Homo sapiens: one gene and its partners. The protein of the gene in region 1 purifies or fractionates together with the protein of each later gene. This does not show direct contact. Each region holds a gene or a part of one and is shown on either strand. Other genes may lie near its edges.

Region 1 (3,500 bases):
TGGTGGATTGGATAAAGAAAATTTGTACACTGGCACCATAAAACACTATGCAGCCACAAAAAAAAAAAAAAAAAAAAAAAACCATTTCCTTAGCAGCAACATGGATGCAGATGGAGGCCATTATCCTAAGTGAATTAACCCAGGAACAGAAAACAAATACCACATGTTCTCACTTACAAGTGAAAGCTAATAACTGGGGGTATTGGGAACACACAGACATAAGATGGGAATAATAGACACTACACCAGGGACTCCAAAAGGGGAGAGGAAGGGAGAGGGACACGGGTTGAAAAACTACCTATCAGGTACTATACTCACTATTTGGGTGACAAGATACCTCAGCATCATGCAATATACTCATGTAACAAACCTGGACATGTACCCCTTGAATCTAAAATTAAAGATTAAAAAAATACTTCTTCTGCATTTTCCTTAATGTTTATATAAAATGTATAATAAAAACAGATTTCTATTTTTATTTTTACTGTTGCTAAACAATAAATACTTTAGTTAAGCATTTCCAAATTCATCATAATAAAGTAGAAGGGATTTTAAATAGAATAGAAATGGATTCTAACAACTCTGATTACTATCTCTGTGACCTCAGACAAGTTAACTAACCTCTCTGAGGCTAGAATTTCTTTATCTCTACAACAAAAATAGCACATTTTACTTCCTAGGGTTGGTATAAAGGTTTTAAAAATATACATTATGTAGGGGAAGGGGGAGATTATGTCATATGCCTTGTCCTCAAAAAAGATTAGTTATATGACTCCTTCCTAAGAAAAATGCTATTAACAGGCTGAAAGTCCTCAGTTTAAACCAAAAGTTGACCACTTGAACAAAAATATTTAAAACAATGCACATTATATTAAGATATTGCTATAAAGTTTCATAAAACTAAGAAATGTTGTACTATGTAAAAACATAACACATTAGCCTATTCAAATGAAAGTATTTCCTCCTAGTTGTAAAAATCAACACTTAAAATACAATTCTAGAGTCAATTATGAGAGATTTCCAAGGCACTATGAAGGCCTCTGCTTTTCTTAATTAGCAAAGGAATGAGGGTGGTAGGGAACACATCTATTTTGTGTATTGCTGTGTATCTAGCAGTTCGGCAGAGTACCTGGTCATAGTAGGTGCTAAATGAATATTTCTACAGTGGGTGCGTAGAAAGCCTATGAATTTTTGAATCAGAGAGATTTGGTTTGAATCACCACCATATAGTGGAATAATATTAATAATATCTATCTCTAAAGATTGTTAAGAGGATTGAAAGAAGTATGAAAAGCACTGACACATGTATTAAGATATATTTCCCTTGGGAGGCTGAGACACGCAGATCACTTGAGGTCAGGAGTTCAAGACCAGCCTGGCCAACATGGGGAAACCCTGTCTCTACTAAAAATACAAAATTAGCTGGGTGTGGTGGCACATGCCTGTAATCCCAGCTACTCCGGAGGCTGAGGCAGGAGAATTGCTTGAACCCCGAAGGCAGAGGTTGCAGTAAGCCAAGATTGTGCCATTGCACTCCAGCCTGGGCAACAAGAGCAAAACTTCGTCTCAAAAAAAAAAAAAAAAAAATGTTCCTTAGTGCTGTTCATACTTTTGCTAGTTTCATAATATCACATGTTAAGGTCAAATGAAAATAGTACTCCAAATGACCAGACTAGTAAATTGCCACATGTATTCTACCTGTATAGAAAGAGACCATATATGTAGTAAAATCATACTTAATAAATCTTTGGCTGCTATACCATCAGGGCAGCCAAATTGTTCAGGAAAAGCAATTCCTGCTTCAAGGCTTTTTAAAGAGGGCTGCATTACTTGTTCAGTTTTCCTGCACGTGCCTTTCGGTTGCCTTTTTAGCTAGTGACCCTGGATTTTAGCTAATGAACTCCAGCTGTTCTTACTTTGCCTTCCAGCCCTTCTCATTTAACCTCCTGTCTCCCTGGTCTCACATCCTTAAAGTTCTTACAGGAAAAATGGGACAGTGCCAAAGTTTTCGAATAAAGCCTCATATCTTCTTGAGGGGAGAGGGCTCTTTTAACAAGGGCTCCAAGCTTTTATAGTGGTGTAAAAAGAAACATTCATTGTTGGAAATTGGATTCCTAACAACCTCCAATGTGTCAGAAATCCTCTTGTGGTTTTTAATATTACACGAGCAAAGCATTCGGTAAGGTAAGTCCATAAAACAAACCAAGAAAGTCCACAGTTGACTACTAAATGTAATTGTAAACACCTGTGATGGAGAGGCAATTCCTCCGTAAATATGCAATGAAAGAAACATTTAGCATACAGAAGAAAACGGATCCAGGTTTTCTGAACCATGCTGAGAACCATCTGTTAGCAAACCTGGCAAAAGGTTTCACTGTTACAGTTAAATGTCAACCTGAAAAACTTGGCTGTGGGCAATATCTAAGCAAAGCCAATCTTAAGCAATTGGCAAACTCAAGCTCACAAAGGAAACCTTCCTCTTATGCGGGTGACCTGGGAATTTCTATTACGTTCACAAATACTCTTTAACCTATCCATACATCTCTTTCCAAATCTGATCATCCTTTCATGGAGACCATTAATAAGTACATTAGTTAATGCAGTTTCCATTATATTAAACACTTAAAACCATGCCTTCTCCCAGAATGCACCTGATCCTACCAGGATGAATCTCTGGCTAAACCAATAGCCCATTTGGCCCTTCCAATTAAATTCAAAATGATGTATTCCTCAGGGGCTCTGAAAGACTTTTGAAAAGGGTATCAAATTCAGTTATAAACTCATTTTCTGAATTGCTTTTTCCATGCTTGTTTGCATAACCTATCCTTCCAAGCTCAGTTCAAAATCTAGTGACTCCATCAGTCACACTGAGACTAACTTGCTCTCATCTTAGTTTATGTCTTTTATACACTTGTAACTTGAATCATGTGCTCTGTTAAGACTGCAAATGATAGAACAAAGACATGGGTTTCTCTTCTCATCCTTCACAGCATCCAGCAGCATACTCTGCATATAGCATGTGCTCAGTAAAGAACAGAAGATAAGTAGTTAAAAGTGGGAGAAAATAAGGCCAGGGAAGTGCCATTTCTCTGGGATTTTGCTGAAATGCATAGCAATCCTATCATCATCTTATTTCAAATGGCTCATGCAATAAAGGTTGATAAATTATATTTTTAATGATTCATTTCACTATGTTGGCTTCTTGATGTTTATGTTATAAAGTATTAGTTATCTTGATGGTAAATAAGACATTACCCAGGAAAAGAAGAATGGAATAAAAATGGTCAACATTTGTTGAACTCTGAAAAACTGACTCTGTGATAAGTGCTTTATATACATATTCTTGTTGAATACTCATAACAACTCCATGAAATAGGTACCACTATTATCCTCTTCCTGCAAGAAACTGAGTAATAAATAGCTAAAGTAACCTACCCAACATCATACCACTAGTGATTGGTGGACCTGTGCTGCAAACCCAAGTCCATTTGACACCAGGT
Region 2 (2,555 bases), on another chromosome or scaffold:
CAGGAGGTGGGGGACAAAATGGAGAAGTGGATGCTGGGAAACTAGCTTCGGGGATGAGGGCAGGCTTCCCCACAGTGAGTGTTTGAGCTGGGCCAGGGAGGCTGAACAGGAGTTCGCCAGGCAGGGAATGGCCGTTTCAGCCAGCAGAGACAGCAGGTGCAAACCTCAGAGGTTGAACGCTTGGGAGCGTTTGGAGAAGGGCAGGGCCAGGACGCAGGAAGGAATGAAGTGAGAACGTTGGTGAGGCGGGAAGGGAGACACAAAGCCTCATGCCCAGCAGCCGCGAGCCAGGGAAACGTGAAGGTGGGGCAAGCTGGACTAGGCTGGCTAGGAGGTCAGGAGGGAGCCTGGTTTGGGACCCTGGGGATGGAAAGGAGGGTTCAGAGAGAAACCAAAGAGGGTGGAACATTTTCCAGGTTCCATGAGGCTGTGACTGGGTCGAGGGGCAGGTTTCTGAGCCCCCTGGTAGCCGGGTAGAGGACAGCAGTTGGCACACCATCTGCTAAGCACGGAGGCTGTTTATAGGCTGGGCCGCATATTACAATGCTCAGGGCTCCACTGCACCCTCTCGGGGGTCTGCTAGCGCTTTCCGTAGACTGTCTCCACGCCCTCCCCACTCCCAGCCAGTCCAGATCCTCTCCGGAGGGACTGCAGCAAGGATCGTTAAGTCTGTCCACCGGGATGGGGGAAGACCAGGGCCGGAGCAGATTGGCCATCCTTCAGAAGATCGACTTCCGCTATTGGGGAGAGTCTGAGGAGTCCGTTCTCCCACGGGGCCTCGTCACTCTTTGCGAAGGGCGCCTGGCAGGTCAAATGACCTCCATTTCCACCTCGCCTTCCACCTTCTTCTTTTGCTTCTCCATCACTGCCTCCAGCTCTGACACTTTCTCTTTGTCCTGGAGGGCGGGGTGGAAATCGCTTTGTCCTGGCGTCCGAGCCCTCGTCATCCCAACCCTACCCAGACCCAGGGACCAGCGGTCCGGCTCACCTCCAGCAGCGAGCGCTGCACGGTGACCTGGCTGTACACACGTGCCCCCTCCTCGGGGCTCACCGCCCGCAGCTCCTCCTTCTGCAGCGAGAAAAGCTGCGCCCCGGTCAGCACACCCAGCGCGTCCACGGTCCTGAGCGAGGGCAGCCCGGGCGCGGTCAGGCCGGTCGGCGGATGCCCCAGCCCGGACAATCATGTCACGCCCACCCGGCGATGGTCCAATCAGAACAGCATTCTAGCTCTAGCGGGGGCAGGCCCGACACCTCCTGAACCCCACCCACCAATCACAATGTTGCCACCCGGGGGGCGTGGCCGCATCCTGCTTTCAAAGGGTACGGGATTTCCCTAAGGAATCCAGTCGGAGTCTGAAAAAACATGGCAATCACAGCCTGCCATTGGGTGTTGCTACCAGACAGACCCTCACTTCGGGCTAATCCCGGCTCCCTGTGGTCTCCACGACTGCCGCCCCCCGACTCCCGGCCGATCGGAACGCTCCGCTCCCAGCGTCCGTATCAACCCGCGCCGAGAGGGCCCCGGCCCCACTCACCCGGAGCTAAAGCCCTTGGCCTGCAGCCAGGCGCGGACCTCGGAGGCGTCCGAGCCCGGGCTGAGCTGCGGTTCCGGGGCGCGGGGCCCTGGGACTGCGCGGCTCGGTCCCGAGCGGCCCTGGGCCAGGCGCGCCTGCAGTTCCTCGTTGACGATGAGCATCTGGGAGAATTTCTCTGCAGGCGGGAAACCGGGAGGTAGGGAGTGCGGGCTCAGGGCGAGGGGTCCTGGGGCCAGAGGGCGGGGCGGGGGGGCGCTCCAGCGTCCCCAGAATGGGACGGGAGTCCCTTTGCTCTTTCTGAGCCCCCGTTTCTCTGCCTGGAAAGCAAGGATAAGGACCGCTCCCCGCAGCCGGCGTCCCCACCACTCACCCTTCTCGCTGGGGTCCAAGCCGTTGAGGCTATCGCAGCTGTCCCAGCGGGGCCTGTCCCAGCGGGGCCGAGCCAGAGCTGGAGGTGGGGCCGGGGCTGGGGCTGGTGGTGGAGGAGGAGTGCTGTTCTGAAAGGAAGGAGAGGAGAGTACCTGGGTTAGGGAGAGGACTCAGAGTCCCAGCCTCTCCCCTTTCTGGAGATGCATTTCTGAACCCCCAGTCACCACCTGCTCCAGCACTCTTGACAGCTGATCCCCACGCCCCTTGTTCCCAGGATCTGGTCCCAGCCTCTCCACCCTCAAGATCCCAGCGTCTGCGCTGGCTCACCAGGCTGCGGGCAGGGCTTTGGCTGTGGTGCAGCCGGGGTCCGGGGTAGGGTGTCAGGATGTTGTAGGGCACATATCCCTCCTGCCCCGCTGGGTCCCGAACCTTCCACCACTTACGACTGTCATCCAGGACCTGGGTGTGGTAAAGAACAGAGGGTTCAGAGCCTGTCTGCAGCTAGGGCTGGCTAATTCCTGCCCCTCAGCCTCCCGCTCCTCTAACCTCCAGTACGTCCCGCTGCTTGACCGACAGCTCACTGCTGTTGCGGGCCTGGAAGTCATAATTACACAGGACCCATTTTCCTGCTGTCTCTGACTCCAGCTGAGG
Region 3 (2,376 bases), on another chromosome or scaffold:
AACTCCTGTGATCTGCTCACCTTGGTCCCCCAAAGTGCTGAGATTACAGGCGTAAGCCACCATGCTCGGCCACAAACTGCTGTCTCCTTAAAAGGGTAGTCTTTTTTTGTTTTTCTGAGGTGGCGTCTCACTTTATCCCCAAGGGTGGAGTGCAGTGGTGCCATCTCGGCTTGCTGCAACCTCCGCGATTCTCCTGCCTCAGCCTCCTGAGTAGCTGGGATTACAGGCGTGTACCATCATGCCTGACTAATTTTTGTATTTTTAGTAGAGATGGGGTTTCATCATATTGGCCAGGCTGGTCTTGAACTCCTGACCTCAAATGATCCACTTTCCTCGGCCTCCCAAAGTGTTGGGATTACAGGCATGAGCCACCATGCCCATCTGGGCAGTCTTAATTATTCAACATTGAACACAAACTGGGTTTAGATTATATGAAGAAACTATTACTAATATTTTGGGGGTGCGAAAATACTGCGGGTTTGTGTTAAGAAAATTCCCCATCAGAGATACAGACAGGAGATTTATGAGTGAACTGATGTGATATCTGCTCTAAAAATACAGCGGGAAAAAAATAGCATGTGTGATGAGATGCATGAAACAAAACGATGGAATTTGAACATTTTCCTAATAAAAAAGGCAGTCTCCCCATTCTTGCCAAAGAAAAACAGAAACAAATCCCGATGTATGTATGTATCTATCTGTATCTGTCTGTCGTTCTGTCTGTCTGTCTGTCTATCTAGGAAAGAGACAGAGAGATGGAAATACAGGTAGATCTATATATCTGTATCTCTATATCTATAGATCTATATCTATATCCACAGATCTATATCTATATCTGTATCTATATCCACCTGGTCCTGCCTCAGCCAGGACAGTCCGGTAGAGAGGAAGGCCTGCTTTGTCTTATTGGAAATGCCTGGGGCTACCAATCCAGACTGCCTGTGAACAGGGACACAGGGATAACCCACATGGTCAAGAACACTGACTAAGTGGACACACAGACTAAGTTGACAGCCTCAACCCCAAGAGGAGAGGCAGTGGATTTGGGGTAGGTCCCTCCTTACAGCCACACTGGAGGGAGTCGGCTCTTTAGTATCAAACCCATGGAAACACATGCGCAGGCCTTCCATGAATTAAAGAACCCCCTCCGGTAGTCAGAATTTCAATTAGTAAGAAGGTCATGTTCTAGTCACAGTCTTGAGGGATGGGAAATGGAATCTTCTTGTTTACATTAAAGTTATTTGCAAATTAGTTTTCATGGAAAACCTTGATGCTTACATTTTTCTGACTTTCCCATTTCTCTTATAGCTGCCCAGTCAGGAATACTTGATAGGACAATTTCTGTAATTATGAAGAATCAAACACCAACAAAGAAGGTTTGTATGCCTTGTAAGAATCACTGTCTCAATGATCATCTTCCATTCTGTGTAAAAGTAGTGTTTTCCCACAATTTTGCACTTTCTGTCTTTTCTTTTTTTCTGTTTTTCTTTTTTTTTTTTTTGAGATGCAGTTTGCTCTTGTTGCCCAGGCTGGAGTGCAATGGCACGATCTCAGCTCACCGCAACCTCCACCTCCTGGGTTCAAGCGATTCTCCTGCCTCAGCCTCCCGAATAGATGGAATTACAGGCATGTGCCACCACACCTGGCTAATTTTTTGTATTTTTAGTAGAGACAGGGTTTCTCCATGTTGGTCAGGCTGATCTCAAACTCCTGACCTCAGATGATCCACCCGCCTTGGCCTCCCAAACTGCTGGGATTACAGGTGTGAGCCACCGCGCCTGGCCCAGTTTTGCACTTTTTTAATTAGTGTCTCCAATATGGGCATTTCTGTTTTTGCCATTAGTACTATTTTTTTTGTAATATAATTTACATTTTTCACAGTACAAAAAGCTAGAATATACAGAAAAGAAAAAATATATAAGCACTCACAGCAAATAATAAATTCTATAGTGTTAATATAGTACCATGAAAAAAATCTACTTTCCAACTCAGTCTGATTTACAATTTTAGTATGATGGCTACACATCATGTCCACTGGTGACCGGCTACAACCGTGTGATTCTTGCTGAGTTTGACTACAAAGCAGAGCCGCTAGAAACCTTCCCCTTTGATCAAAGCAAAGAGCGCCTTTCCATGTATCTCATGAAAGCTGACCTGATGCCTTTCCTGTATTGGAATATGATGCTAAGGTAAGTGCACTGCCTGGTTCCTGGATGAGGAAAGGGATTTGTAGCACATCTCCACCCAAAGGGGATGCAGCCTCTTTTCTTCATTATTAGCAGTGACCAAGTGTTCTGTCTTCCATGCTCTAGGCCCTCTTTTGCTGCTGGATAAATAATAATAGTAAATCACTTTCACATACCAAGTACTCTATCA
Region 4 (3,500 bases), on another chromosome or scaffold:
TCATTATTCTTCTATTAACTGAGAGTTTCTCATTGTTTACATTGTATATTATATACCAAGCCCTGTCTCAGTGCTTCCTTCCATCCTCATGACCATCTTCTGAGGTAGCTGCCATTATGTCTCCATTTCAGAGATGAGAAAATTGAGGCACAGAGAGATGAAGTGACTTGCCCAGGGTCACACAGCTAGCAGATGGCCGAGAGGGCTCCAGTACCTGTGCCTGTGGCCCCTGTGCTGTACTGCCCCTCCAACTTTATTTTCCATTCTGATTCTAAAAGCAGTTCATGCCCATCTGCAAAATGTGGATACTAGTCTCTGCCTCATCAGTAATTCTGCAGATTATGTTTTGTGATCCCCATATTAAAGATTAATGAATTGAGGCTCAGAGAGGTTGAGCAATAAGCCCAGAATCATATAACCAGGAAGCAGGAGAACTTTGGGGTCAGTTCTGTCTCATTTCAAAGCTAATTCTTATTCCTCTACACCCTGATTTTTCTTTTTCTTTCTTTCTTTCTTTTTTTTTTTTTTTTTTTTTTGAGATGGAGTCTTGCTCTTTCCCCCAGGCAGGAGTGCAGTGGCACACTCTCGGCTCACTGCAACCTCCACCTCCCAGGTTCAAGCAATTCTCCTGCCTCAGCCTCCCCAGTAGCTGGGACTACAGGTGCACGCCACCACGCCCAGCTAATTTTTGTATTTTTAGTAGAGATGGGGTTTCACCATGTTGGTCAGGCTAGTCTTGAACTCCTGACCTCAGGTGATCCATCCATCTCAGCCTCCCGAAGTGCTGGGATTACAGGCATAAGTCATCATGCCTGGCCCTCTCTTCTTTTTTCTCCCCTTATCATTTCATTCCTATCCCAATGAAACACACTCTGTACTTGAGGATTTCCAAATTTTAGTTGCTGATGAGAAGAATGAGAAGACAAAAGTTGAGAGCACCCTGTGTTTTCATCAAGGAAGCTTTGGCAAAAGACTGTTTATTAGACAATGCCCTGCACTGGGGGCTAAGTGGCTGCAGTGCCAGGAGCCAGGGGGTCTTCTCCAGATGACTCTGAGCTTTCTTCCATTCTTTTCTAGGATCAACTGCTACAACGCCCTCTATGCACAGGCTCCATTTGGTGGCTTTAAAATGTCAGGAAATGGCAGAGAACTGTAAGTGTTTCCATCATTCTGAGCCTGCCGTGGGCTGAACACTAGATCCACTAGATTTGCAGGCAGTGACACAGGCTCCAATCTGCTGACACCCCGTCCCCCCCACACCGCCGCTCTGTCTGGGCCAGCTGTGTCCCTCTAGGGTTGGTGGGGACCCATCCCTTCCTCTCTCCAGCCCACCCTTCCCACTTACATCCTCAGCCTGCCCCCCTCCAGGCCTCGGCTTTTGTGTCTGCCCAGCAGCCATCATGCTGGGGACATTCAGTGGATATTTGACAAAAGCTCCCTGGACGGGGACACAGGCAGAACTGAAAAAGTGTACTTTTGCCAGATGTGGGGTGTCATTATTCACACAACTCCCCACTCACAGCAGTGAAGACAGGTAAGGCTGACCCAGGTAAGGCTCCTACCTGCTGGGTCCTTTTTTCTGAGCCTAGTAGGGGACCTCCTCCCAGGAGGCATATGACAACACCTCCTGCTGGGCCTCTGCGGCCCTCTCAGTATATGCAAGCCTACTGCAAATCCCTCCACATGCGTGTGCAAACCCACTGCAAACCCCTCCATGCGCGTGCAAACCCACTGCAAACCCTCCACGCGTGCATGTAAACCCACTGCAAACCCCTCCGTGCGTGTGCAAACCCACTGCAAACCCCTCCACATGTGTGTGCAAACTCCTCAGTGTGTGAACCCACTGCAAACTCCTCCGTGTGTGTAAACCCACTGCAAACCCTCCACGTGTGCATGTAAACCCACTGCAAACCCCTCCGTGTGTGTGCAAACCCACTGCAAACCCCTCCACATGTGTGTGCAAACTCCTCAGTGTGTGAACCCACTGCAAACTCCTCCGTGTGTGTAAACCCACTGCAAACCCTCCACGTGTGCATGTAAACCCACTGCAAACCCCTTTGTGTGTGTGCAAACCCACTGGAAACCCCTCCACTGTGTGTGCAAACCCACTGCAAACCCCTCCACATGTGTGTGCAAACTCCTCAGTGTGTGAACCCACTGCAAACCCCAGTGTGTGCAAACCCACTGCAAACCCCTCCACATGTGTGTGCAAACTCCTCCGTGTGTGTAAACCCACTGCAAACCCCTTCGTGTGTGTGCAAACCCACTGCAAACCCCTCCACTGTGTGTGCAAACCCCTCCACACTTCCTTTTTTGTCCTGCCTGCTGGGAAAATGAGTTCCCTAGGTTTAGATTAATGGGTGGAACTTCTTGCGTCTGGCCCACACCCAGAGCTGGCTAGAGCAACCCGGGAGTGGAGATGTGTGGTTTCCAGCCGGACACTGTCTTCTCTCCCCAGCTCAGGATTTTATTAGCCTGTGTGGACAAACATTTTGTAGGATCAGTGTTCCCAAGGAACCATCTGTGACAACACCCCAGGTTCCTGGGACATCTCTAGGGACCCAAACTCTTCCTTTTATTTCACTAGTCTGTCCTATTTATATACAAATGTAGTCCCTTGTTTGCACTTCTTCCAGCGGGAACAGACTCAAACGCTTCCCCTCACCTTGGGCCTTGGTTGGGGCCTTTGTGTGGCTCTCTTTTGAGATTCTTAAAGATGCTGTGAAGGGATGGGCCTGGCTTCCATCCCCAAACAGATGTTCTTGACCAGTCTATGTGGAATTGGGGTCCTGTCCCCCTCCCACCTCAGTCCTGCTTTGTAGTCCATCCCTGACTCTCAGCAAATACTCCAAGGCGTCTGCACTTGTGAGTGAAGCCTGTCCATTAGCCTTCCCCCTTATCCCTGTGGCTGGCTTCGCCTTCAGCGGACATCAGTAATTGTTGGCCATGAAACCCCTTTGCAGAAATTGCATTTCCTCCCTCTAGTGGCCTGTTTGCATTTGAGTTCTGTGAGCCCCTGCTTCATCACTTCTTACACCTGCCCCTCCAGGGACAGGCAGCCAGGGCTGGGGTCACCAGGGTCCCCTCTTGGGCCCTCCAACAGCAACAGTACTGGCAACAGCTGGGATTTGCTGAGCACAGACTCTGCAGCAGGCTCGGTTGAGCTCTCTATGCCTGTTCCTTCATACCATCCTCACGCCCATCCATGAGATGGGTCCAGCTGTTTTCAGATGAGAAAATGGCACAGGAAGCTGGTAAGTGACAGTCAGAAATGAATGCTGGCAGCTTAGTCCTTGGACCCACCGCAGTGCAGGACCTTGCTCAACAGGGATCACCCTTGTCCGCCACCTGTTCATGAGGCCACCCAGGGTTTGCGTGGTCATTTGTCTCCTTTCATCTGCTGCCTTCAACCAGCTGGGTCATTAGGGCTGGGGAACCCAGACCCCACACAGTCCTCCTCCCAGACGCCAGACACAGCCTCACGCCACAGCAAGGACTCC
Region 5 (4,123 bases), about 32 Mb from region 1:
GTATCTGGTACTGATTCAAAAGCACTCATCTCCATCAAGTCATCTTCTGTTGATTCCTCTGGTGTGGTGTCTATTCATTCTTGAATTTCTCACAGATTCATATCTTGAAAGACCATATCCCCCACCTTTTGTTGCTGAATTAGAGATGTTGGGTTTGCAGGCAAGTAGACCACTTTGACACCTTCAGTGTTGAACTCATGGGTTCTGGGTGGCTAGGGGCATTGTCCAAAAATCAAAAGAACTTTGAAAGACCGTCTCTTACTGGCAAGATATTACCTGACTTCAGGGACAAAGTAATGATAGAACCAATCCAGAAAAAGTGTTCTTGCCGAGGCCTTCTTGTACAACAAAAAAACTGGCAGTGGGTATTGATCTTTTCCCTTTAAGGCTTGGAGGCTAGCAGGCTTATGGATGGGGGCAGTCCTATTTGTAAACCCAAACATACAAACATACAAACTATGTCAAAGGCATAGCATGGGTACTGTGAAAGGAGGGTGAAAACACAAAGTTGACATCACCTCTGACCTCAAGGAGTGCTCAGCAGACTGAGAGAGACAAGTACATATTTTCCTGAAGGAGGGCACTGGAGTGATGGCGTGTTTAGAATGTGCAAGTTGAGCGGTCACTGAGAGGCAGCTCAGCAGAGTGCTCTCGCAAGGATTGGGCGGGCAACTTCCCACTGCGTGCGATGTATCTTAGGAAAGCCATTTAAAATAGGAGACGGTTACTTTCCATCAAGTCCCTGGTATGGTCCATGGAAGCAGGGTTGTCAGTCTCATTTCAGCATTTTAGAGGCTTCTCAGGGTTTGGAAATGGAAGAAGAGAAGCAGCAATATGTATGCATTGCAGAGACACAGGCGAGCCCCAATTTAGGAGGTTAGGAGGTCAGTGCTAAGGGCCTTGTTTTCTTTGCTTAGAGCATGAGTTGCCATCTTCTCTGGACAGAGAGTATTTGGTTGCCTAAAGGTAAAATCTAAATTTTGCTCTGGGACAAATTCCAAAAAAAATTAGCTTTAATCAAATTTACTTTTACTTTATCTTTCTGAACCTTCAAGGTCCAAAAGCATTGGTTAATAATTCTGCTTCTAAACTTAACATTGCAGCACAGGGCATGTTCTGCCCCCAAGGCAAAGACCATAAGCTACTGTTGTCTGGAAAACATACAAATAGATATCTCAGCAAAAGCTACTCATATATTCTTGTTCTTTTGGGTAAATCATTGTCAGTGACTGATTTTTTTTTTATGAAAGGATAAAAACACGCCCTCTATTGGGGTCAGGTTTTGTGCTGGTATTTCTCCCACCTACTGTATCATAGGAGCTTAGATTCCCAGCTGCTTGCTCTCAGCTGCAGTTCTCTGATGGCTTGCACAGGGTGGACCAGCCCCCTTCCTCTATGTGTGTGTCTGCTGCTGACCTGTGGCTTTGCCGAGGCAGGGAAGCTACTGGTAGTGCCCATGGATGGGAGCCACTGGTTCACCATGAGGTCGGTGGTGGAGAAACTCATTCTCAGGGGGCATGAGGTGGTTGTAGTCATGCCAGAGGTGAGTTGGCAACTGGGAAGATCACTGAATTGCACAGTGAAGACTTATTCAACTTCATATACCCTGGAGGATCTGGACCGGGAGTTCAAGGCTTTTGCCCATGCTCAATGGAAAGCACAAGTACGAAGTATATATTCTCTATTAATGGGTTCATACAATGACATTTTTGACTTATTTTTTTCAAATTGCAGGAGTTTGTTTAAAGACAAAAAATTAGTAGAATACTTAAAGGAGAGTTCTTTTGATGCAGTGTTTCTCGATCCTTTTGATAACTGTGGCTTAATTGTTGCCAAATATTTCTCCCTCCCCTCCGTGGTCTTCGCCAGGGGAATACTTTGCCACTATCTTGAAGAAGGTGCACAGTGCCCTGCTCCTCTTTCCTATGTCCCCAGAATTCTCTTAGGGTTCTCAGATGCCATGACTTTCAAGGAGAGAGTACGGAACCACATCATGCACTTGGAGGAACATTTATTATGCCACCGTTTTTTCAAAAATGCCCTAGAAATAGCCTCTGAAATTCTCCAAACACCTGTTACGGAGTATGATCTCTACAGCCACACATCAATTTGGTTGTTGCGAACGGACTTTGTTTTGGACTATCCCAAACCCGTGATGCCCAACATGATCTTCATTGGTGGTATCAACTGCCATCAGGGAAAGCCGTTGCCTATGGTAAGTTATCTCTCCTTTAGCACCTTAAGAATACTTCACCTTTGGAAATTAAAAAAGGATTCTTTACTGAACTGTGATTTGACATTTTCATTTGTTTCATTTCAAATTTCTTTCCAGTTTAACAAATTATTTTGTGCCAATGCGTGTACTCGTCAGTAGCAAATTTTATAAAACTGCCCTTCTTGAAGATATGTATTTATAACTTATAAAATTGTGGAACATATTCAGCCTACATTTTTAAGTACCATGTTTAGAAAAGTACCAAAAACCACAGTAAGAAATGAAACTTCCCTTTTTTGTTAATTCTATATGCCCGCCCCAGAGGAAATGGTCTTAGTTTTGTGAACATTCTTTTAATGTTTTTAAAAAAGTACTTTAGGTATATACAATATCTAATGTAAATTCTCACACCTATTTTGTTAAAATAAAATCTAGTATTGGGCTGGACATATTCTTCTTTTCTTTGCATTTTTCACTTGCCAATAAATTATAAATACCTTTATAGACCAATACAGACAGATTTGACAAGTTCTATTAATAATTGCATAAAATACTTTACTTTGGATGCAATGTAGTTTTTAACCAATTAATATTGATATAGATTTAGGCATTTTGCATTTTTTGTCTTTATGAATAGGGCCGTGTAAACACTCTTTAATACTTTCCTTACATGAATATATTTCCATATTCTTGCTTTTATCTTAGTTGACTAGAGCCCTACATGTAGGGTTACAGGATTTCCATGAATTGAGAAGGATTGGCATTTTTTTGCTATTGTGTCTTCCTGTTCAGGAATATGTATGTCTCACTATTTATTCAGATCTTGTTTTATATACATAAATAAAATTTTTCACTATATAAGCATTTTCTGTTTCTTATTAACATTTATTCCTCAGCATTTCATTATTTTTGAAACTATTGGGTACAGGACAATTTTTCCATTTCTACATGTAACTGACTATGGGTAATTAAGGTTTTGTTTTTTGCATATGTATCTTGTATCCAGCCACATTACTAACTTATCTTATTATTTTGTAGTATACAGTAGATGTACAATATACAATGTCAACTGCAAAGAATTCCCTTCTCTGATATTTATACCACTTATTTTGCTTTGCTGGAGCTTATACTTCCAAAGCACTATTGAGTAATATTGTGAGAGTAGCCAGTTTAAATTTTAAATAGGGATTCAATCACTTGTGATTGAAAAGTCCATGACAAATACCAGAATAACATTCTTAGCAAATGTGTAGTTGGCTGAATCCAGATTAAACACCTAATGTCTAATCTCAGTATATTATTTTGGAGGGATGGAGTATACAATTTATCTATTGTTCTGGCTCCTTACAAGGTTCAGTAGACTTGGTAACACAGTCATATTCTCTCACATATTGGCAGATGTTTGGTGAAAGAGTGACTGTTCAGCCAACTCATGGGAAAGTGAAATAATGCTCTTTCTAAAAAGCAGGAGGACTACAGTTGTAGGCCTTTCAAAATTAGGCATGACTTTCGGATCTTCACAAGACTAGGCTAGGAGATGCAAATGGCAGAAATCTAAGAGGTTAGACTTGTCTAAGCACTTTTCTCCCCTTTACCCTCCATAAATTATAGTATCCTCCATTAATTGTAGTAACAGGCACCACTTATGTGTTGCCTGCACCCCACAACCTTTGGCTGAGGGTAAGGCCCTGCCACTTCCTGAACCCACACTGAATTTATTGTGCCTCACAGCGTCACCCAGAGGCCTTTAGAGATATAAAAACCTATATATGATTTTATATCACCTATGATAGAGGGTTATCTATAAAATATGAAACATCAAACTATATATGGTTTCATTTATTTTGATTATAAATATCTTTTATGAGATATGAAATAAATGTGTTTATGTGTCTATTAAAGAATATG
Region 6 (3,500 bases), on another chromosome or scaffold:
ACGTGGACTCAACACTCCCAAAAGTGCTCAGAGTGAAACCCACACCGGGCCGCAGTCTGGGTTATCCTTCCAAACCAGTTTCTTTTCTTTTCTTGAGACAAAGTCTCTCTGCATCACCCAGGCTGGAGTGCAGTGGCACGATCTTGGCTCACTGCAACTTCTGCCTCCCAGGTTCAAGCAATTCTCCTGCCTCAACCTCCGGAGTAGCTGGGATTACAGGCACACACCACCATGCCCAACTAATTTTTGTATTTTTAGTAGAGATGGGGTTTCACCATGTTGGCCAGGCTGATGTCGAACTCCTGACCTTAAGTGATCCACCCATCTCGGCCTCCCAGAGTGCTGGGATTACAGGCGTGAGCCACCGCACCTGGTCTGTTTTTTGTTTTATGAGATGGGGTCTCACTTTGTCACCCAGGCTGGAGTGCAGTGGTGTGCAATGGTATAATCTCAGCTCACTGCAACCTCCACCTCCCAGGCTTGAGTGATCCTCCCACCTCAGCCTCCCGAGTAGTTGGGACCACAGGTACAACACTGAGCCCAGCTAATTTTTTTGGTAGAGATGGGGTTTTGCCATGTTGCCCAGGCTGGTCTCAAACTCCTGAGCTCAAGCGATCCTCCCGCATTGGCCTCCCAAAGTGCTAGGATTACAGGCATGAGCTACTGCACTTGGCCATATTATTATTATTTTGAGACGGGGTCTTGCTTTGTTGCCCAGGCTGGAGGGCCAGTGGCATGATCAAGGCTCACTGTAGCCTCAACCTCCTGGTCTCAAACAATCCCCCTGTCTTCACCTCCCAAGAAGCTGGGTCCTTAGGTTTTGAAGTCATAGCATCTGCCACATCAGCGGTGTTGGGGTCCAGGAGAAGCCCAGTTAGACTGGGCGGTGGGTGGTGCCTGGTGCAGAGTCAGCACTGCTCGGTGATGGACCAGGCAGATGAGTGAATAACTGATGAAAGAATGAGGGCAACAGTCCCTAGTGGGCAGAGCCAGGGCTTTGGCTGGAGCGACAGGGCCAGGGGACCTGATGGTCTTGTGAGCAGGACAGTGACATGAAGATGACTGTAGGTAACTGTGCCTGGCGCTCACTGCTGAGCTCAGGACACAGGCTCTTGTGTCATCCTCCCATCAATCATTCTTTTTTATTTATTTTATTTTTTTGAGATGGAGTCTTGCTCTTGTCTGCCAGGCTGGAGTGCAGCGGTGTGATCTCAGCTTGCTGCAACCCCCACCTCCTGGGGTTCAAGCAATTCTCCTGCCTCAGCCTCCTGGGTAGCTGGGATTGCAGGTGCGCGCTGCTACGGCCGGCTAATTTTTGTATTTTTAGTAGAGACAGGGTTTCGCCATGTTGGCCAGGCTGGTCTCGATCTCCTGACCTCAAGCAACCCACCCGCCTTGGCCTCCCAAAGTGCTAGGATTACAGGTGTGAGCCACTGCGCCCGGCCCCTCCTATCAGTCATTTTGTAGATGAGGAGACTGAGGGTCAGACAGTTTGCTCTGCCCCAGGTCATCCACAGAGGAACGAGTAGCGCCAGGACTGAACGCAGTTCTCTGGCCTGAGCCCAAGCATGTACCCACCACACTCTACTGCCTCCATGGGCGCAGAGTTAGGGTATCCTGGTAGAAGAGTCGGGCGGAACCCACCTGCCCAGAGATCCCTGACCCCGCCCCTCTTTAGGGCACAGCCCAGCGCCTGCAGAGCCTGGGAACGGAGAAGGAGACAGCCCAGAAGGAGTGCGAGGCGTTTCTGTCCACGCGGCCCGTGGGCCCCGCTGCCCTGCAGCTGCCCGTAGCCCTCAACAGCGTGAAGAACAAGTTCAGTGACGTGCAGGTTCTGTGCAGCCTCTACGGGGAGAAGTGAGTGCTCTGGGGACAGGGCAGCCACGCAGGGCAGCAGCGTGTGGCCCAGGGAGTGTCTGAGCCTTGCCTCCTCTGCGGCAGAGCCAAGGCTGCCCTGGATCTGGAGCGGCAGATCCAGGATGCGGACAGGGTCATCCGAGGCTTCGAGGCCACCCTGGTGCAGGAGGCCCCCATCCCTGCTGAACCGGGGGCTCTGCAGGAGAGGGTCAGCGAGCTGCAGGTAAGGGACCAGCCGGGGCCTCCTGGTGTCAGGGGAACCCAGCATTCAGGGGCGGGTGGGTGGACACGGCGTCTCCCCAGCCACGAGGGTGCACGGCTGCGTCCCCTCCTCCTGCAGCGCCAGCGGAGGGAGCTGCTGGAACAGCAGACCTGCGTGCTGCGGCTACACCGCGCGCTGAAGGCCTCGGAGCACGCATGCGCTGCCCTGCAGAACAACTTCCAGGAGTTCTGCCAAGACCTGCCTCGCCAGCAGCGCCAGGTGCGAGCCCTCACCGACCGCTACCACGCCGTAGGGGACCAGCTGGACCTGCGGTGAGCGACTGGGTCCTCGGGGCACAGGGTGTGGGCTGGTGCAGAGCCAGGCATTGCTGTCTACAAGCTGTGTGATCCTGGGCTAGTGACTTCACGTCTCTGAAGCTGTTTCCTCATCTCTAAAATGGGATAACAACAGCACTTACCTCCCAGGGTGGTGCCTGGTAGAGACTGTCCCATCTCTGAATTCCCAGGGTCAGGGAGTGGGGATCTGCACAGCAGGCCACTCGGGCCTCCTGACCTGCCCCCAGGAGGAGGCTCCCATCAGCCTCCCTGTGCACCTGCCCCTGTCCCCACGGGGCAGGTCTTATCTCTGTTCTGGGCCTCGTCCTCCTGCAGGGAGAAGGTGGTGCAGGATGCCGCCCTCACCTACCAGCAGTTCAAGAACTGCAAGGATAACCTGAGCTCCTGGCTGGAGCACCTGCCCCGCAGCCAGGTGCGGCCCAGCGACGGCCCCAGCCAGATCGCCTACAAGCTGCAGGCGCAGAAGGTGAGGCTGGGGCAGGGACAGCTGCCTGTGCCCATGTGGCCCCCTAGTGGCCAAAGCTCAGAAGCGCTCTAAGGGGCTTCAAAGCCCAGGCCACGGAGGCCCTGGGCCCCTTCCCTGGCCTCCAGCTGAAATGCTCCTCTTTGCCCACAGACGGGGCCAGCCCATCTCTGTCTGGCCCGACTGGGGCAGTGGGATTTACAAGCTCAGGCCACAGAGCCCTGAGGGTTCCGGCCACTTTCTCATGCTCATCAAGCCCCTGCCATGTACCAGGCAATGTGTTCACTGGGGTACAACCCTGCACCCTGGCAGCTCCCAGCCTGGTGGGGGAGGTCTGTGATGCCGACAAGCATTGGTGGGAGAAGCTGGAGTGCTGTGGGTGCCCCCAGGCTGGACACACTTGCGGGTCAGGATCGGTAGTGTGGGAGGAAGCAAGTGTAGCCGGGGGAGGGATGAAATGTCCCATGCAGAAGGCATGGCAGTCAGGGGAAAGGAGGGGGACTCAGGGGCGAGGGCGACCAGATGGGCAGACCACACAGGCCCTTCCGGCACAGGACCCAGGCTGCACTCTCTCCTGCAGCCCCCAGAAGCTGCTGGGGAGGGGATGCTTCCAGGCCAGTGT
Region 7 (4,053 bases), on another chromosome or scaffold:
AAAGAATCTCCCATAACAATAATTGTGTGAATCACAGAATTACCAATGACCCCTTATCAATAGCATTCCTGTTAATTAAATTGAGATGGGGAGAGATACAAACAACTCCGAACCTCACTCATGGTCCCCCACCAAAGCTAAGTATTATGGCTTCTCTCTCTGACCAGATAGAGGCAGAGTTTATTGCAAAGCCACAAGTGTCCTCCTTTGGATTCCCCCAAATAGTGTTTCAGTGAATTCCTCTAGCTTGAATTGCTCCTCTCTATTTGCTGGGGGAGTTAGGCAGTCCGTATCCGATGGATTTACTATGCCGACAATTACGTGGCCTTTCCACAGCCTTTTACTTGGCAGGTACCACATATGAAGCTTAGAAGATACAGTGGGCAACAGGCCAAATGGAGTCCCTTTCCTCAGAGTGCATGGCCTGGCAAAAATCCTTGAATTCAGTATCAACTTCCCTTCACAGGCAAGGCTCTGCACCCTCCCCACGGATGCCTAATCCTGAAACCATTTTGTTTTAGGTTTAGTTAGAAAGCTTTGTCTCAAGAGCACTTTTGTTTGTTCTGTTTTCTTTAAGTCAAGGTAGTTTTGAATAAAGGAGACAATATTTGAGTATTTACAAATCGGGTATTTAGACTATTTACACATATACAAGTTCTGGGTGAAGTATTCTGCTCCAATTTGCAATCTACGCACACTTTGCTAGAAAACGTTAAGACTGAATTCAAATCAAGTACAGTATTTCAGAAATCTTTCAGGTGAAGCCTAGTTCTGGTTGCTAGGCAACCTGACAGACTCCCAAGCTGGGACCACCTCGCCTCCCACATTTGACCATCTCTCCAGCGGTGGGACGCGGAGTACCCATTGGCCCGCATCTCCTCTCACTTAGTCCCAATTGGTCGGAGAACCTCTCACTCCGCTCCCGTTGGCTCTCGCCGTATCTCGCAGCTCCGTCATTGGCAACTGGGCTCTCGTGCCACCTCACGTCAGTCTCTCACACCACTTCCTCGGCCCTGAGACTTTGTCCCCGCCTCTTCTCCCCGCCCTTCCAGCCACGAGGGAAAATCCTAGCGAGTCATCGCCTCTAGTTTCCTTTTGATTGGTAGAAGCCGGACTGGGGGGCGGGCGCTGCCGGGCAACTCTACCGGCCGCGATTGGCTGTGGGAGCCACCGTCCCGCCTCCCAGCGACTCTCGGCGGTGCCGGAGTCGGGTGGGTTGGCGGCTATAAAGCTGGTGGCGAAGGGGAGGCGCCGCGGACTGTCCTTTCGTGGCTCACTCCCTTTCCTCTGCTGCCGCTCGGTCACGCTTGGTGAGTGTCCCGCGCTGGGGAGTAGAACTGGGCTGCGGAGGTGCCGCGGGCGGGGTGTGGGCCAGACAGAGGCGGTGTCCTTGACTAGGCCCGAAGGAGCTGGGGCTCTGGGTCAGGACGTAGGCGTGGACTTTGCCCGGGAGGATGGGGCACCGTGAGCGGGGCCGGGCGGGGGTTCCCTCGTGAGGGACCTGAGGCCGACCGTAGCGGATCTGAGAAGATCCGAGAACACAGGCGAGTCGCGGAGGGGAGAACGCGAGAGGGCGTTGAGGTCTAGGTATTCTAACGACAGAGGAGTTGGAGGTGCCAGAGAGGCAGCTGTGACCGCCTAGAGGTGAGTGGGGGGTGTCAGGAGGGGGAGAGAAGACAGTTGGGCTACCAAGGCGTTTCCAGAGCGTTGGTTAAGGGTGGACGCCAAAGGATGGGCAAGATCCTCTTTAGACGGAGGCTGGTAGGTTCGCAGGGGGTGTGTCCTGCTGCCACATATAGAGTTGATGGAAAGAAGGGAAGTGGGTAGCATTACTTTTCTTCCTCAGCTCAGGTGCAAGAAAGCGTTCACAACCGTGATTTAGACCTGGCTAAGTACTGGGGCTCAGTCTGTACTTGCTTCAAATCTCATAGATCACTGCCTCCCGCCTTCCTGCCTCCATATTTTTTTTTGTCTACGTTTTAAAAAATAGGCTTCCTTGGTGTTCTGAAATCCCACATCTCTCTCCTACTAATACCTTCGGGACCAGCTTTAGGTGATACAGTGTAATGGGCAGGCACTCACAGAGTCCTCCCACAAATAGGTTTTGGATTAAGCTAAGGATATTTCAAAGCAAGTATATGGAGTCTTTGAAAACCCACGTCTGGCCTTGACCAGTGGTAGAGAAACGATTATTCTGATCCACTCTGGAGGAGGGATTTGGGGAACAAATAATGTGAGGTTGTGCCTGTTTGTCATGCTTGTCCCTATGGCCTTAGCCTTAAGGCATCAGTAGCTGCTTTCACTGCTCACCTCTGCTGCAGCTCCCCACCTTCCCGAGGATGCTCTTGCCACCTGCTGCAGTAGGATGATGTGTTCTGGTTGCTGCTAACTAACATTTGCTCTGTTTTAGGCATGAATATGAAAAACAATGACAAGATAAACAACAAAATTAAGACAAATGGAAGTGCTCCTAGAGTTAACAGATTTTTCCTTCTGAGATGTGTTTTGGACTTTATTGCACAGATACTATTAGATGAGAGGCAGTTGAAAGTCGTTAACATTATCCGTGTCAGTAGTTCTTTGCACTTGAGACACCTAAGCAGCTTGTGTTCTTTAAACTTTATTTTAAAATTGCAGTTATTTTTGTGTGAAGAAGGGGGCAGGGATAGCATACCTTATGGGAAGAGAGAAAGGCTTTCTTTGTGTCTACCTTTGTAGATATTTCTCACCTAAGTTTGTAAGTTTGCCCTTTATTCGGTTCTACTTTAGTTCAGCTCAATTCTAGTATAATCATCAGTAACCCCAGCACTCAGAAGGTCTGACTTACGCTGTGGGGAGGGAGTGTAAAAGGATATTTTATGTTTGGAGCCATAGGCCACATCATTTGGGCCTTGTTTTAATTTTGTTTTTCATCTTAAATATCCCTCCAGATTGCTTTTACATCTTGTTTCTTTTAACTGTGGATTGATTTTGAGATTTTGACTTAGATTTTAGATAGCTTTTCTCAGAAGAAATAAACGCAAAAACCCGATATTGTTGTAACATCAGTTTCCTGTGTCCTCTAGAATCATTTAAAACCTGGTTGGATCTTCCATAATCCAGTGGAATTGGATATGAGATGTAGCTGGAGAAGTTTGTTTTGCTACATATCAGAATCTCCAATTAGTTTCATTTAGAAAGGAATATAGCCTTATAATTTTATGCTGGGTTACTGTGGAACCAAATATCATAGAAGGATGTGTGATATTTTTATGTTTTTCAAGAAGGTAGTATAGATTTAAAAGGTGGGATACATATTACCTGTCCTAATGATAGGACTAGATTTTTTTTTTTTTTTTTTTTTGGGGAGACAGAATCTCGCTCTGTCGCCCAAGCTGGAGTGCAGCAGCGTGATCTCGGCTCACTGCAACTTATGCCTCCCAGTGATTCTCCTGCCTCAGCCTCCCAAGTAGCTGGGACTACCGGCATGTGCCACCACACCCAGCTAATTTTTTTGTATTTTTAGAAGAGATGGGGTGTCACCATGTTGGTCAGACTGGTCTTGAACTCCTGACCTCAAATGATCCGTCCGCCTTGGCCTCCCAAAGTGCTGAGATTACAGGCGTGAGCCACCATGCCTGGCTAGAACTAGACTCTTAATCTCTTCATCCTAATGCATGGCGTGTGTTGATGTTCACTTAATGTCTGTCAACTGGGTGTAGTTACACCAGTAGCGGAGAGGCTAATCTTTGAAAGCCTGAAGTGTTGTCTTCATCTTTGCAGGGTTTTTAGTTGTGGGTGCATATGGGAATGATTGTAAGACCAACAAATGTTTTCTGATTCCATATGGGCTTCTTACATTTTTCACCTTGGAATCTGGGAACAATTGAAACCTACCATATGCCTTGAACAGTAGCAGTAAAGAGCCAGTTTCTTTAAACTAGACATTATGGTGCTGCAGCTCATCTCAAAACTGATAGCAGGCTACTCTGGACACACTACATATAGAGTAGCCCTGCTCTGCAAGGAGCAGTAATAAATTAAAAAAAAAATTAAAAAGTGATAGCAGAAAGC

What was found.
Region 2: the proteins of CDK15 (region 1) and EPS8L1 purify together in Homo sapiens (affinity purification with mass spectrometry; 2 studies listed by BioGRID and IntAct, with this or other methods). This does not show direct contact.
Region 3: the proteins of CDK15 (region 1) and SQOR purify together in Homo sapiens (affinity purification with mass spectrometry; 2 studies listed by BioGRID and IntAct, with this or other methods). This does not show direct contact.
Region 4: the proteins of CDK15 (region 1) and ALDH1A3 purify together in Homo sapiens (affinity purification with mass spectrometry; 2 studies listed by BioGRID and IntAct, with this or other methods). This does not show direct contact.
Region 5: the proteins of CDK15 (region 1) and UGT1A9 purify together in Homo sapiens (affinity purification with mass spectrometry; 2 studies listed by BioGRID and IntAct, with this or other methods). This does not show direct contact.
Region 6: the proteins of CDK15 (region 1) and EVPL purify together in Homo sapiens (affinity purification with mass spectrometry; 2 studies listed by BioGRID and IntAct, with this or other methods). This does not show direct contact.
Region 7: the proteins of CDK15 (region 1) and HMGCS1 purify together in Homo sapiens (affinity purification with mass spectrometry; 2 studies listed by BioGRID and IntAct, with this or other methods). This does not show direct contact.

The regions. Positions count from the first base shown.
Region 1 is NC_000002.12:201,813,037-201,816,536, reverse strand, and holds part of CDK15 (cyclin-dependent kinase 15), read right to left. Parts: intron 1-3,500. UniProt on the Homo sapiens protein: Serine/threonine-protein kinase that acts like an antiapoptotic protein that counters TRAIL/TNFSF10-induced apoptosis by inducing phosphorylation of BIRC5 at 'Thr-34'.
Region 2 is NC_000019.10:55,085,869-55,088,423, reverse strand, and holds the end of EPS8L1 (epidermal growth factor receptor kinase substrate 8-like protein 1), read right to left. Parts: coding exon 2,451-2,555; intron 2,364-2,450; coding exon 2,232-2,363; intron 2,033-2,231; coding exon 1,906-2,032; intron 1,711-1,905; coding exon 1,536-1,710; intron 1,122-1,535; coding exon 989-1,121; intron 897-988; coding exon 810-896; 3' UTR 501-809; downstream 1-500. UniProt on the Homo sapiens protein: Stimulates guanine exchange activity of SOS1. May play a role in membrane ruffling and remodeling of the actin cytoskeleton.
Region 3 is NC_000015.10:45,687,029-45,689,404, forward strand, and holds part of SQOR (sulfide:quinone oxidoreductase, mitochondrial), read left to right. Parts: intron 1-1,308; coding exon 1,309-1,376; intron 1,377-2,010; coding exon 2,011-2,189; intron 2,190-2,376. UniProt on the Homo sapiens protein: Catalyzes the oxidation of hydrogen sulfide with the help of a quinone, such as ubiquinone-10, giving rise to thiosulfate and ultimately to sulfane (molecular sulfur) atoms.
Region 4 is NC_000015.10:100,907,331-100,910,830, forward strand, and holds part of ALDH1A3 (retinaldehyde dehydrogenase 3), read left to right. Parts: intron 1-1,077; coding exon 1,078-1,152; intron 1,153-3,500. UniProt on the Homo sapiens protein: Catalyzes the NAD-dependent oxidation of aldehyde substrates, such as all-trans-retinal and all-trans-13,14-dihydroretinal, to their corresponding carboxylic acids, all-trans-retinoate and all-trans-13,14-dihydroretinoate, respectively.
Region 5 is NC_000002.12:233,670,575-233,674,697, forward strand, and holds the start of UGT1A9 (UDP-glucuronosyltransferase 1A9 precursor), read left to right. Parts: upstream 1-1,323; 5' UTR 1,324-1,360; coding exon 1,361-2,215; intron 2,216-4,123.
Region 6 is NC_000017.11:76,013,807-76,017,306, reverse strand, and holds part of EVPL (envoplakin), read left to right. Parts: intron 1-1,678; coding exon 1,679-1,857; intron 1,858-1,941; coding exon 1,942-2,080; intron 2,081-2,197; coding exon 2,198-2,391; intron 2,392-2,730; coding exon 2,731-2,881; intron 2,882-3,500. UniProt on the Homo sapiens protein: Component of the cornified envelope of keratinocytes. May link the cornified envelope to desmosomes and intermediate filaments.
Region 7 is NC_000005.10:43,310,613-43,314,665, reverse strand, and holds the start of HMGCS1 (hydroxymethylglutaryl-CoA synthase, cytoplasmic), read left to right. Parts: upstream 1-1,253; 5' UTR 1,254-1,310; intron 1,311-1,484; exon of another isoform or gene 1,485-1,644; intron 1,645-4,053. UniProt on the Homo sapiens protein: Catalyzes the condensation of acetyl-CoA with acetoacetyl-CoA to form HMG-CoA, which is converted by HMG-CoA reductase (HMGCR) into mevalonate, a precursor for cholesterol synthesis.